Linked DNA regions of Homo sapiens. The protein of the gene in region 1 binds, or shares a complex with, the protein of each later gene. Each region holds a gene or a part of one and is shown in the gene's direction. Other genes may lie near its edges.

Region 1 (7,675 bases):
TCGCGCCATTGCACTCCAGCCTGGGCAACAAGAGTGAGACTCCCGTCTCAAAAAAATAAATAAATAATTAAAAATACAAAAATTAGCAGGGTATGGTGGCAGGCGCCTGTAGTCTTAGCTACTTGGGAGACTGAGGCAGGAGAATCACTTGAACCTGGGAGGCACAGGTTGCAGTGACCCGAGATTGCACCACTTCACTGCATCCTGGGTGACAGAGTGAGACTCCATCTCAAAAATTAAAAAAAAAAAAAAATCCTAAGAGACATATCAACCAATTGCAATGTGTAGACCTTACTTGAATCCTTATTTACACAGGCTTAAAAAAAAAAGATATTTATGAGACAGTTGGGTAAATGTGAACTCTGTCTAGATATTCCTCTAGATATCAAGGAATTGTTAATTTTCTTACATGGTATTGTGACTGTGTTTTAAAGTAGTCTTAATTAGAGATACATTTGAAATATTTATGGATGAAGCAACACGGTGGATTGCATGTGCTTTGAGATAAACCATTGTCGGCTGGCTGCAGTGGCTCACAGCTATAATCCCACCACTTTGGGAGGCCAAGGCAGGAGGATTGCTTGAGCCTAAGAGTTGGAGACCAGCCTGGGCAATATGGTGAAACCCCATCTCCCAAAAAAAAAAATATGAAAAGTAGCTGGGCCTGGTGGTGTGTACCTTTTGTCCCAGCTACTCAGGAGGCTGAGGTGGGAGGTTGGCTTGAGCCCCAGGAGCTGGAGGCCACAGTGAGCTGTGATTGCACCACTGCACTCCAGCCTGGGTGACAGAGTGAGATCCTGTCTCAAAAAAAAAAAAAAAAGAGATAGTGGATAGGGGTAGAGATGCAATGGAAATTGGCCATGAGTTGGTCATTGTTGAAGCTGCTTTTGTGTACATCTGAAACTTTCCAGCTGGACGCGGTGGCTCACACCTGTAATCCCAGCACTTTGGAAGGCTGAGGCGGGTGGATCACATGAGGTCAGGAGTTCGAGACCAGCCTGTCCAACATGGTGAAACCCTGTCTCTACTAAAAATACAGAAAAATTAGCTGGGTATGGTGGTGTGTGCCTGTAATCCCAGCTACTTGGGAGGCTGAGCCAGGAGAATTGCTTGAACTTGGGACATGGAGGTTGCAGTGAGCCAAGATTGCACCACTGCACTCCAGCCTGGGGCAACAGAGCAAGACTCCATCTCAAAAAAAAAAAAAAAAAACTTTCATAGGAAAATTTGTTCTTAAGGCAGCTCGAACACTACCTCCTTCCTAACCCCTTTCTCCAACATCCAAGATGGATGTGAGGCCTCTGGGCTCCCCTGGGGCCCTAAGTAGATCTTTGACTCAACAAACAGTCTCTGTTGGGTCTTTTATTTATAAAAAGTTTTGTAGCGACAGGGTCTCACTATGCTCCCCAGGCTGGTCTTAAACTCCTTGGGCTCAAGCGATTCACCGGTCTTGGCTTCCCAAAGTGCTGAGATTACAGGCGTGAGTCACTGCACCTGGCCTAGGTCTTGAGAGACTGGACGGAAGAGGCTTGGCAAGGGCAAGGGCTGTGGGTATCCCAAGGCCCGGTGCAGGGTAGGCCCCGAATGTGTGCTGAAAAAATGAGTCAGAGGATCACCTAGACGGCTTGTTCAACACGGACTGTTGTTCCCAGTCCTGCACACAATTTCTGATTTCAGTGGCCTGGGGTGCCACCTGAGAATCTGCATTTCCCATAGTTCCCAGGTGATGCTGCCGCTGGTCCTGGGAGCTCACGTGGAGAGCTGCTGACTTGGATAACAGTATCACAGATTGTTCAAATCCTAGGATCTCAGAACCCCAGCTAGGGTTGAACTGCATATTAAAGATGATTCTGAGCCGGGTGCGGTGGCTCATGCCTGTAATCCCAGCACTTTGGGAGGCCGAGGTGGGTGGGTCACCTGAGGTCAGGAGTTTGAGACCAGCCTGACCAACATGGTGAAACCCAGCCTCTACTAAAAATACAAAAAATTAGCCAGGCATGGTGGCACATGCCTGTAATCCCAGGTACTTGAGAGGCTGAGGCAGGAGAATTGCTTGAACCCGGGAGACGGAGGTTGCAGTGAGCTGAGATCACACCATCGCACTCCAGCCTGGGCAACAGGAGGGAAACTCCATCTCAAAAAAAAAAAAAGATTCCGGACACTAGTTCTTCCCCTTTTGTGAGTTCAGAACTTCCTGTGAGAAAGTGAAAGCCAGGACTCTTTTTCCCAGAAATACATGCATACATACACACATGTGCATATGATCTCAGGCACTCATGGCCCTCCCTAAGCCTGCCCATGATGGCCCCTTGGCCCTCAGCTTAACACCTTATTTTATCTAGTAGCTCCTACCTCTGAACAGATGAGGAAACTGAGGTCCAACCAAATTGGGTGGTACGGGCTGAGTTCACAGGGATCTCAGTTTCTTGACTTCCTTCTCAGGCTTCTGTGGCTCTTGGAAAGGCTTTATCTTGCCTCTAGGTTATCCGGTGCCACTTGAAGTTGGGTTCAAGCGATTCTCCTGCCTCAGACTCCCCAGTAGCTGGGATTACAGGTGCCCGCCACCAGGTCCAGCTAATTTTTGAATTTTTAGTAAAGACAGGGTCCTCAAGTCTGCCTGCCCTAGCCTCCCAAAGTGCCGGGATGACAGGCGTGAGCCACCGTGCCTGGCTGGCCCCACCAATCTATGAGCAGAGGTTGCAGTGAGCCAAGATTGCACCACTGCACTCCAGCCTGGGTGACGGAGCAAGACTCTGTCTCAAAAAAAAAAAAAAAAAAAAAAGGCATTGTCAACTTTTTCTTTTCTTTTCTTTCTTTTTTCTTTTCTTTTCAAGACAGAGTCTCACCCTGTTGCCCTGGGTGGAGTGCAGTGGCACGATCTTGGCTCACTGCAACCTCTGCTTCTTGGGTTCAAGCAGATTCTTGTGCCTCAGCCTCCTGAGTAGCTGGGATTACAGACAAGCACCGCCACACCCAGCTAATTTTTGTATTTTTAGTAGAGACGGGGTTTCGCCATGTTGGTCAGGCTGGTCTCAATCTCCTGATCTCAGGTGATCCACCCGCCTTGGCCTCCCAAAGTGCTGGGATTACAGGCGTGAGCCACTGCACCCGGCCTCTTTGACAGTTCTAAGAAGTAAAATAAACCAGAAGAAGGCAGGCAGAGAGTAATAGATATTGGGAACTGTTATTTTTCCTATTCTGATTTAAATTCCTTTATTATGGAAAATTTCAAATGTATACAAAAGCAATGAAGATAATGAATGCCCGTAAACTCTCATCCAGCGTCATCGGTAATTAAGATTTTGCCCCATTTCAAATGCAGACATTTTTATATTTTCTTGCATAACTGCAATACCGTATTGCACTAAATGGAACTAACAGTCACTTGGATATTTTGGAAAGGATGGCTCAGAAAGGTATCTCTGAGGAGGTGATGTTCAGTCATGTAACTGATATTTACTAGTACCTACTGCATTCCAGACACTGCTTTAGGAGTTAAGGGTCCCTGAGTGAAGGACATTTGAGCTAAGGTTTAAATGAAGTGAAGGGGCCAGGTGTGGTGGCTCATGCCAGTAATCCCAATGCTTTGGGAGGCCGAGGCGTGCGGATCGTTTGAGCCCAAGTTCGACACCAGCCTCAGCAACATAGTGAGACCGTGTCTCTAAAAAGAATAACAAATTAAAAAGAATAAATAGGCCAGATGCAGTGGCTCAGGTCTGTAATACCAGCACTTTGGGAGGCTGAGGTGGGCGGATCACAAGGTCAGGAGTTCGAGACCAGCCTGGCCAACATGGTGAAACCCTGTCTCTACTAAAAAGACAAAAAAATTAGCCGGGCATGGTGGCACACGCCTGTAATCCCAGCTACTCGGAAGGCTGAGGCAGGAGAATCGCTTGAACCTGGGAGGCGGAGGTTGCAGTGAGCCGAGATCATGCCACTGCACTCCAGCCTGGCAGACAGAGTGAGACTCTGTCTCAAAAAAAAAAAAAAAAAAAAATAGAAAAAAAAAGAAGAAATGAAGTGAAGGAACAAGCTGGAGTGGGTATCTGTGGGACTAGCAAGGCAGGCAGAGGGAACAGCAGATGCAGGAGCCCCGAAATAAGACTGTCTGAGGAACAGACAGGACGCCAGTGTGGCTGGAGTGGAGTAGGCGTGAGAGAGGGAGTTGAGATCAGCCAGATTTGATAGCACCTTGTGGCTCACGGTGAGGACTTGGGCATTTGCCGTGAGATGGAGCCAGGTTCAGAGCAGAGGAGTGACAAGACAATTTATAGCATGCCCATGGAGGGCAGAGATTTCTGTCTCTTTTTTAAAAAAATTGAAAAAAAATTTTGTAGAGACAGGGTCTTGCACTTTGTTGTCCAGGCTGGCATGCAGTGGTGTTATCATAGTTCACTGCAACCTCGAACTCCTCGACTCCAGCGATCCTCCCACTTCATCCTCCCAAAGTGCTGGGATTAAAGGTGTGAGCCACCATGCCTAGCCTATTTCTATCTGTTTCATTTGTCCTCAGTCCACAGTAGATCCCAGCCCAGCACACAGTAGTAGTTCAATAAACATTTGTTGCACAAATAGAGCAGATCAGTTTACATGGAGCTGTGTTATTTTGTATGTTCCAGGGTGTGGCATGCCATGATTTATTTAGCCCCCCCGTGGATGGTCATCTGGCTTCTTACAGGCTTGTCTTAAGCATTGCGTGAAATTAATTATTACATTGCTCTTAGCACTGGAGGAAGTGCTTAATCTGTGTTAGTGATTATCATGACTATTTGTGTTGTTATTAACACAGTGGGTGCAAGGGAGACCCAGATGGAGATAGGGCTGGGGGGGCAACCTAGGGTGACACACGCACCTGGGGAGGAGGGGCATGTGGCTTCTATGGTGGTAGCCCCTCCCTGCCCCTGACGCGTCTCTCCTGCCTGCAGCTCCACGGAGAAGAACTGCTGCGTGCGGCAGCTGTACATTGACTTCCGCAAGGACCTCGGCTGGAAGTGGATCCACGAGCCCAAGGGCTACCATGCCAACTTCTGCCTCGGGCCCTGCCCCTACATTTGGAGCCTGGACACGCAGTACAGCAAGGTACGTCTGGCCCACCGGGCTACGAGATGCGCTTGGGGGGAGCCAGGACGGAGGAAGAGGAGAGAGAAAGAGAAGTAAAGTCAGAGAGGTGAGTTGGCAGGATGGGGAGAAAGAGAGGGATGGGGTGGGGAGGGGAATGAATAAAGAGATGGGGAGAGAGGCAGGAAGCTAGAGAGGGGCTCTGAGCAGGGGCCAGAGGGAGATGAGCTATGAAGACCCACAGAGTGAAGTAACAGAGGGATGGGGGTGAAGGGGAGAAGAGAGACAGGGAGATGGAAGGAAAAACGCAGAAATGGAGAGACAAAATGAGAGAGACAGATACAGACACAGAGTTAGGCCAAGGAGAGACAAAGACAGATACACAACAAGGCAAGAGGCGAAGATGAGGAGGGACAGAGACTGAGAAAGAAAATCAGGCGGGCGCGGCGGCTCACGATGGTAATACCAACACTTTGGGACGCTGAAGCAGGAGGATCGCTTGAGCCCAGGAGTTCGAGAGTAGCCCAGGCAGCAGACTGAGATCCCATCTCTACCAAAAAAAAAAAAAAAAAAAAAAAAAAAGCTAGGAGTGGTGGCGCTTGCCTGTGGTTGGAGCTACTCCGGAGGCTGAGGCGGGAGGATGGCTTGCGCTCAGGAGGTTGAGGCTGCAGCGAGCCATGATCGTGCCACTATACTCCAGCCTGGGTGGCAGAGCGAGACCCAGTCTCAAAACAAAAAGAAAATCAGACAGGTGGGGAGAGACAGAATAAGATAGGATGTTAGAAGATAAGAGAGACCGAATTGGAGATGGGAAGAGGGGATGCGGGGAGAGACGAAGTGAGAGAGGCTGGCGCGGTAGCGGGTGGGGGATGGGGCAGTGGAGGGCCGTTTTCCTCCCTCCACGAGCCCTGAGCCCTGACCCCGCCCGCCGCCCGCAGGTCCTGGCCCTGTACAACCAGCATAACCCGGGCGCCTCGGCGGCGCCGTGCTGCGTGCCGCAGGCGCTGGAGCCGCTGCCCATCGTGTACTACGTGGGCCGCAAGCCCAAGGTGGAGCAGCTGTCCAACATGATCGTGCGCTCCTGCAAGTGCAGCTGAGGTCCCGCCCCGCCCCGCCCCGCCCCGGCAGGCCCGGCCCCACCCCGCCCCGCCCCCGCTGCCTTGCCCATGGGGGCTGTATTTAAGGACACCCGTGCCCCAAGCCCACCTGGGGCCCCATTAAAGATGGAGAGAGGACTGCGGATCTCTGTGTCATTGGGCGCCTGCCTGGGGTCTCCATCCCTGACGTTCCCCCACTCCCACTCCCTCTCTCTCCCTCTCTGCCTCCTCCTGCCTGTCTGCACTATTCCTTTGCCCGGCATCAAGGCACAGGGGACCAGTGGGGAACACTACTGTAGTTAGATCTATTTATTGAGCACCTTGGGCACTGTTGAAGTGCCTTACATTAATGAACTCATTCAGTCACCATAGCAACACTCTGAGATGCAGGGACTCTGATAACACCCATTTTAAAGGTGAGGAAACAAGCCCAGAGAGGTTAAGGGAGGAGTTCCTGCCCACCAGGAACCTGCTTTAGTGGGGGATAGTGAAGAAGACAATAAAAGATAGTAGTTCAGGCCAGGCGGGGTGGCTCACGCCTGTAATCCTAGCACTTTTGGGAGGCAGAGATGGGAGGATTACTTGAATCCAGGCATTTGAGACCAGCCTGGGTAACATAGTGAGACCCTATCTCTACAAAACACTTTTAAAAAATGTACACCTGTGGTCCCAGCTACTCTGGAGGCTAAGGTGGGAGGATCACTTGATCCTGGGAGGTCAAGGCTGCAGTGAGCCCTGACTGTGCCACTGTATGCCAGCCTGGGTGACAAAGCAAGACTCCATCTTTTTTTTATGTTTTTTTTTTGAGACGGATTTTCACTCTTGTTGCCCAGGCTGGAGTGCAATGTCGAGATCTTGGCTCACCACAACCTCTGCCTCCCGGGTTTAAGCGATTCTCCTGCCTCAGCCTCCCAAGTAGCTGGGTAGCTGGGATTACAGGCATGCGCCACCATGCTCGGCTAATTTTGTATTTTTTTTTAGTAGAGACGAAGTTTCACCATGTTGTTCAGGCTGGTCTCGAACTTCTGACCTGAGGTGATCCGCCCGCCTCGGCCTCCCAAAATGCTGAGATTACAAGCATGAGCCAGCGCACCCAGCCAAGACTGCATCTTTAAAAAAAAAAAAAAAAAAAGACTGGGCACGGTGGCTCACACCTGCAATCCCAGCACTTTGGGAGGCTGAGGCAGGGGGATCACTTGAGGTCAGGAGTTTGAGACCAGCCTGGACCACATGGTGAAACCCTGTCTCTACTAAAATACAAAAAAAGGCTGGGCGCAGTGGCTCACGCCTGTAATCCCAGCACTTTGGGAGGCCAAGGCGGGCAGATCACGAGGTCAGGAGTTTGAGACCAGCCTGACCAACATGGTGAAACCCAGTCTCTACTAAAAATACAAAAATTAGCCATGGTGGCGCACGCCTGTAATCTCAGCTACTCAGGAGGCTGAGGCAGGAGAATCGCTTGAACCTGGGAGGTGGAGGTTGCAGTGAGCCGAGATCACGCCACTTCACTCCAGCCTGGG
Region 2 (7,148 bases), on another chromosome or scaffold:
GAATCTAATGGCATGCTGCTCTATTGAGTTTCCGGAAATTCCTCTAGTAAGGGATTTAATTTGACTTTAATTCAGCATTTCCCAAGCTTAATCATGGAAGTCTTGTTTCAGAAAACATTAATATCTCACAGATTGAGTCATCCATAAACTATCTTGGCAAGAGACACTGGCTCCAGCAGTTCATTTTTCTTTGAATTTGCACCTGACACTGATCTCTGTTATTAAACACTCATGAGGCCTTTAAGGAGTCTCTGTATTAACCCATTAAAGTAGGAAGTTCTTAAACTTCAGAGCATATAAAAACCATTTGAGGACCTTGGTATAATGCAGATTGCTGAGCACCATACAAGATCTACTAATTCAGAATCTCCTGGAATAGAGACAAGGAATTAGAACTCAGAATTACTCTATGGGGGATTGTGTTGTATGCAGTCTTCAGTCTACAGTATGAGAAACACTGTCTTATGTAACAATTCAGTGAAAAATACCTTCAAGCAATTTATGTACTTTATCATTAGAAGAAGCTAGAGGTCATAGTCACAATAATATATCTCACTGGTCTGACCATTAATCATCTTCTGAGATGTCTCAGGCAAGCTTATAGATAACTTGTGAATACCCACCCAAAACGTACTGAATGGCTCTGATCCCAACTTCAAAAAGATGTAACATTAAAATTCAAATGTGTCTGTAGGTGCCACTATGAGATCAATAATTTGGGCACATCTAGTTAAAGTGTGAATAGCCACAGCTGTATGTGGTGTCTTACACCTATAATCCCAGCTACACAGAAGGCTGAGGTGGGAGGATAGCTTGAGTTCAAACTTGAACCAGGAGTTCAAGGCCAGTTTGGGCAACATAGTGAGATAGCAAGATTCCATTTCTTAAAAAACAGTCTGAGTGTCTCCCTCACTCCTGCTACCTATCTATAGCTTATTCATTCTCACCATAAACTCACTTAGTGAGAAATCAAGGTTAAAGGAGTAGGGAAGAAATTTAAGTAATTTAATTTTATGACTTTTTAGTAACTCAGCTCAAAGACTCTAATGATAGGAAGCCTGGAATGAATAACTAAAATGTTATTTTTAGACTATCTGTGAATTTCATTTCCTCTCATTACCACAAATGATGAAAAATTAGCTGTCAGAAATTTCAAAGCAATATAGCAGAACATGATGGAAAAACAAATTAATCAAGTCACCATCTTCCGAAACATTTTTCCTTTATTAGAATTCTTCAGGTAATATGACGAAGATAACAATACTGCATTTCTTTAAAATATGCTGTACATTTCCTCATAGGAAAAAGGGTGAGTTATGGTGACCAGTGACATTAACTGGAAACAAGCAAACTTTTGGTTCCTGGGCCACTAGTTGTATTTACTTTAAGAAAACCCTAAAGATGATTTGCAGTCTTTCAGAGAGTTTACTTTTATGTTTACAGCCCAAAATGTGCAGATAACTTGTTTGTAAATAACTGGCAGGGGTCACAGTGTCACATCTAGGAGATTTCATTTTATTTTATTTCGACAACCAGAGTTACAGCCTCTTTACAACTGAGAAGTGGTAATAAATGGTATTGTGCTTATTCTTCAACAACTCCATAGCACTGGCACCTGACATATATTTGCATGAATTTCATGTAACAAAATGTAGAAATCTTTCTTTCTAAAGGGCTTCAAAATTTCCCGAAACAGACTTCTGAACTTCATTTTATTCCTCTTGCTACATGGTTGTTCTGGATTAGTATATATATCAACACCTAAAAACAGAGTTACAAAAATTAGTGCATACCTCATCAATTTCATAAAGTTACATCCTTTCTTGTTTGCATACATTTATATTTTATTTATTACTGTAACTGCCACTTACAACCCAGCAACAAAGAGTTGTATTTTAGAATATTATGGAATGGTGATATGATAGACACTTTAAAGTGTATTGACATGTCCTTATGGGAATTAGGGATTTAATTTTTTTTTTTTTTGATTGAAGCACTGCATGTCTCAAGGGTGGCTGCATTCAGTAGGTCTGTGACATAACCCCTGGAAAATACCCAGGCTGCCCAATGGAAGAGTCACTAATCAGATATTGAATATGATATTTTTGTGTTCAAATTTTCAAGTCCTCACACCCATCCTAACTAATTTTTAGGCCTTTCCTTTAAGACAACCAAAAAACAAAACTATAACTGTTCAAACTTGGAACTAAGGAAAGGAAATAAATATTAAAGCGGAGCTGGATTTATTTCTATTTATTTAGAGTACATCACCTCCAGTAGAATTATGTTGCTAAGGTTGGGATCACGGCTTTGGTCTCGCGAAGGGACCTGCTTTGCAGATCCAGGGCTCGTTTAATTTTCCAGCTGGGTTCCTGCTTTGCTTAACTAATCCTGTGCACCCCGTTGTGCGGTCCACACCTGAAAGGGGGAGTTTCGATGTTGTGGTTTATTAACCAGGTACTTTCCATTCACTCAGTCAACAGAAAGAAAGAGAGAGACCGCGCCTCCTACTTTTTTTTTTTTTTTTTTTTTAACTACAAATAAGGAGACGGAAACTATTAAATAAGAAGGGGGGAAACTCCCGCATATTTCACCTTGACCTGGCTGGACTGGTCTGCTGCCTCTAAGAGGCGGGTGTTGTATTAAAATGAGAGGTCAAACTCCTCGAATGGGAATCGCTCCTGCCCCTAGAGGGAAAAGAGAACCATCACCGTGTTAAACTGGAAACACTGCCTTGTTTCCAATGCGGGGGACTGAGTTCCCTCCCTCGACTTAGCGTGGTAATGACAGGACCCGAGGAGGCGCGCTGCTTCCGGGCAGTTGCCCAGCATAACACCCGCACCCTACTTGCACCTAAATTTCTGAGCTGCAAGCAGGCAGAAGTGCCTTCCACTTTCTCTCCTTAGCTCCCCTCTCCCCGCTTTGCTGCTGTCTGTAACTTTTTGTTCCGTTTACTGGGAAGGTGACGCTTAAGATCAAAAGACCCACTGTAACTTGCAAAAGCCCAGAGCCACCACCAGACGCTGGGGAAAAACAGGGCTGTCCAGTCCAGGGTTAAGGTTTTGAGCAGAGAAGGAGCAGCGAGAAATCTCGGCCAGTCGCTCCGGGAACAGCCCCTGCAGACTGGTCCAACTCTCCAAAGGCTAGGGACACCGGGGCAGCCTTGTGGTGGGGTAGAGGACGAGCTCCTAACTGCAAGCAAAGTGCTGAGTAGAGGGCGTTGGGGGCAGGGGAGGTCCCTTGACTCCACTTTGTATGCAGCAGCTGCGGGGCAGTGAGTATCTCCGAACAAAGCGGCGAGCAGCGCGGGGGTGAGAGATTGGGGTTTGCTCGCAGCTGCCGCTGGCGCTGAGCGAGTCTCCCACCACCCCCGCGAGCGTTGGGGTGCAAGGATTCGGGGGAGGAGGGAGAAGGGAACGAGGCGTGCCATTCCTGTTGCGCGGCTACGCTTCAGGAGTTCTTGTGAACGATGGGAATGGCAACTATCAGAGCCAAGGGGGAAAAGAAAGAGCTGGAGTGAGCAAAACAAAGAGCGAGTGTGGGCCGCGGTGACTTCATGCCTCACCAATGTCCCGCCCACGCTGCTCCGAGCTGTTACTGCTGCTCCTGCCCGGGCTGCAGCCGCGCCTGCGGGCAGCCGAGGCGAGGCGCTCCGGTAGCGTGGGGAGGTTTCCTAGCAACTCTCTGCCCTGAGTGCACCCGGCTACCCGCAGGTCTGGAGCCCCCCGGGGGGCCAGAGCAGGACCACCCCTCTCCCGCCCATCGCCGGCCTCGCCTCTCTCGCATCCTAGCCGTGTGCACCCCAGAGCGCGCCAGCAACTCGGGCTCTGGACTGCGGGACGCCTGAGCCGCGCACTGAGGCGAAAAGGACAAGGGCACGCAGCCCCCGCCCCGCGAAGCCGGGCTCCGGCACCTCGCGGAACCTCCCCTCCTGCGCTCGCAGCCGCAGGCCCCACTCCCCGCCAGGGAGGGAGCGGCGATGCCTCGCTCTGTGCCTGCGGGTGTCGGCGGGTGCTTCTAGGGCGCTCCCAGAGCCGCCTCCCCCTGTTGCTGGCATCCCGAGCTTCCTCCCTTGCCAGCCAGGACGCTGCCGACTTGTCTTTGCCCGCTGCTCCGCAGACGGGGCTGCAAAGCTGCAACTAATGGTGTTGGCCTCCCTGCCCACCTGTGGAAGCAACTGCGCTGATTGATGCGCCACAGACTTTTTTCCCCTCGACCTCGCCGGCGTCCCCTCCCACAGATCCAGCATCACCCAGTGAATGTACATTAGGGTGGTTTCCCCCCCAGCTTCGGGCTTTGTTTGGGTTTGATTGTGTTTGGCTCTTCGCTAAGCTGATTTATGCAGCAGAAGCCCCACCGGCTGGAGAGAAACAAAAGCTCTTTTCTTTGTCCCGGAGCAGGCTGCGGAGCCCTTGCAGAGCCCTCTCTCCAGTCGCCGCCGGGGCCCTTGGCCGTCGAAGGAGGTGCTTCTCGCGGAGACCGCGGGACCCGCCGTGCCGAGCCGGGAGGGCCGCAGGGGCCCTGAGATGCCGAGCGGTGCCCGGGCCCGCTTACCTGCACCGCTTGCTCCGAGCCGCGGGGTCCGCCTGCTAGGCCTGCGGAAAACGTCCTAGCGACACTCGGCCCGCGGGCCCCGAGGTGCGCCCGGGAGGCGCGAGCCCGCGTCCGGAAGGCAGTCAGGCGGCGGGCGCGGGGCGGGCTGTTTTGCATTATGTGCGGCTCGGCCCTGGCTTTTTTTACCGCTGCATTTGTCTGCCTGCAAAACGACCGGCGAGGTCCCGCCTCGTTCCTCTGGGCAGCCTGGGTGTTTTCACTTGTTCTTGGACTGGGCCAAGGTGGTAAGTTGTTTTGTTTTGTTTTGTTTTCTTCTCTTCCCCAAAGGTCTTGGGCTGGCACGAAGAGCTGCCCGGCCAGAGCATCCCGGCCAGGTAAGTTGCGGTCATCAGAGAACTTCAAGGGGGCGGGTGCGGGGCAGCGTCCTCCAGCACAGATGGCCTAGAGGCCAGGTGTCAAGCATTTCTGCCCTGGAGCGACAGCAAGGACTAATTATCAGAGGAGACACTCTGTGTTACTCCTAGGTGTTGAGGAAGCCCTAATAGAAAGGAATTTTGGAAAAGAGGGTGTCCTGTTTACAGAAGTCATTTAGGGGCCCTGGTCCATTCTTAAGGGCATCGTCTGTACACAATGTTCTCCCTATCTTTCTAACATTTGGGTCCACTAAGGACTAACTTGCCTTTAACTCGAGGCTGTAGATAAGTTGGTTATAATGGGAGTAGTCTTCAATTTTTGAGTCCAGAAAAAGACAGCATACAAGTTTCTGCTATCATTAGTGCTCAATCTGAATGAATTACCCACACTGGAGGGATATTAATGCTTTAAGTCATCATCCTTTCGGCTTAAAAAAAAAAAATACTATCTAATTGATCCCTCACTGAGATCAATCTCTGAGACAGAGAAGCAGAAAGAACTCTGAACCAGGATTAACAGCTTTCTGTCCAGGCAAACCATTTGTGTAAGAGCTACCTTAATGTGGAGAGGTTAACTCTTTACGAAATGCATTGTCCTCATCTGTAAAACGAGGTTTATTAATAATACCTGCCTTCTCTAAATCACAAAGGAAAGTTCAAGTCAAATAGCATATGAGAAGGTGTTTTAGGACTTTTGATTTATGAAACAAAATCAAATGTAAGGTGGTATACCAGATTGGATTGTTGGAAAATTACACAACTAAGTAATAGGACGAATCATGAGTTTAGGATGAGTTCTTAATGGTTTTCAATATAGGCCCAACATTTATTTTTGCTAATGCAGTGACTCTTGTCATACTTTCTTTTTTTTTTTTTTTAATTTCACTTTTTCTCTGTTTGGTCACCAAGTCCTTAAATTATATTAGAGCCTTTCTCTGACCTCTTGGGCTCAAGGAGAGTTTAATTAATAGTTGTAATTGTTTTGTAGGTTAAAATTTACTCCTATACTTTAAAGTGTCAAGGTTTTGCCTGAAGCTAATTAAAACAGTCAAATCATAACCTTATAAGTAGGTTTTATATATATAGATATAGAGATATATGGAAACATCCAGCTATCTTTAGGAAATTGTTGCATATACAGTTTTCTAATATTTGTTTCAGGGAGATTTGCTCAGTTATCTGAAATGGAGAAATTAGAGTAAATCTCTTTATCTTGTGGTTATTTTTTGGCTTGTTTGTTGATTTCAAAATAGTGAAAAGGCAAAGGAAAAAGTAACATTCATTATCAGTTATCTCTTAAATGGAAGAAACATGCATTTGTTGCAGCAAATTTTCCGCTAAGCATAATTTCATCCTGTTTCAATAAGTAATAAAGTGCTTTTCTAGATTTAGTAAACACACATACACACTAGTAAAATGACCAAAATTTGTGTTAACACAGTATATTTTGTTCCCAACGTACAGGCAAAGGAAAAAGTCCTACTTGCCTCTAAAATTTACTATTTAAAGTACATTTTTAAAAACCATTAACTGTGCTTATAAACATTAGTCAGGCTCTTGTGAAAAAGCATTGCATTTCTACCCAGTGTCTAAAACTGATTTGAAGGAAATATTATGAATGGGCCTACTTGCACCTGCAGACCTGAAAAGGGAATGCTTATCTGAAATCAGAACAAGGCATCCTTTTCCCAGTCTCTGTCAATATACAAAGGTTTCTGATGTATACTGATTTGCATGGCAGTTAAAAACATGCAAAAAATGTAAATTATAGCCAGTATAACTCAGAAAATTAGAGATCAGCATAAACTGCTGTACTTTTGTGATATAGCTACAAGTCTCAAATTATATGTCTTTACAGTGCAAATTAGATGCTTAAAGCAGAATAGAAATTTAGGTATCAGTTACAATGGAAATCTTGTTTCCTTGCTCAGTAGTTTACACCAGGAGAATGTTGAGGGCAATAAAGCCATACAAAAGAGACCAGAAGCTGCATAAGACCAGCATAACTTTGGGTTTAATTTTTAAAGCAGAATTTATAGGTCTCGAACATATAGTGGACTTTTAATAACAAATATATAGTGAGCAGTGGGGGATGTTATTAATCAAATCCAAAGATTTCTGATGTAGCAAAAATTATAGCAGTTTGTTTTTTAACTGTCTCTGGTGAAGATTACCCACAGC

Evidence for each region.
Region 2: the proteins of TGFB1 (region 1) and ITGB8 are in contact, whole or in part, in a cryo-EM structure (PDB 7Y1T), measured with the Homo sapiens proteins. Residues at the interface, in NP_000651.3 of Homo sapiens: His117, Thr241, Arg243, Arg244, Gly245, Asp246, Leu247, Thr249, Ile250, His251, Gly252, Met253; in NP_002205.1 of Homo sapiens: Ser156, Ala157, Ser158, His160, Asn161, Asp213, Tyr214, Asn215, Leu216, Gly248, Asn249, Ile250, Asp251, Thr252, Glu254, Gln286.

Annotation. Positions count from the first base shown.
Region 1 is NC_000019.10:41,329,532-41,337,206, reverse strand, and holds the end of TGFB1 (transforming growth factor beta-1 proprotein preproprotein), read left to right. Parts: intron 1-4,925; coding exon 4,926-5,079; intron 5,080-5,996; coding exon 5,997-6,155; 3' UTR 6,156-6,884; downstream 6,885-7,675. UniProt on the Homo sapiens protein: Transforming growth factor beta-1 proprotein: Precursor of the Latency-associated peptide (LAP) and Transforming growth factor beta-1 (TGF-beta-1) chains, which constitute the regulatory and active subunit of TGF-beta-1, respectively.
Region 2 is NC_000007.14:20,327,096-20,334,243, forward strand, and holds the start of ITGB8 (integrin beta-8 precursor), read left to right. Parts: upstream 1-3,804; 5' UTR 3,805-4,711; coding exon 4,712-4,838; intron 4,839-4,881; coding exon of another isoform or gene 4,882-4,928; intron 4,929-7,148. UniProt on the Homo sapiens protein: Integrin alpha-V:beta-8 (ITGAV:ITGB8) is a receptor for fibronectin. It recognizes the sequence R-G-D in its ligands.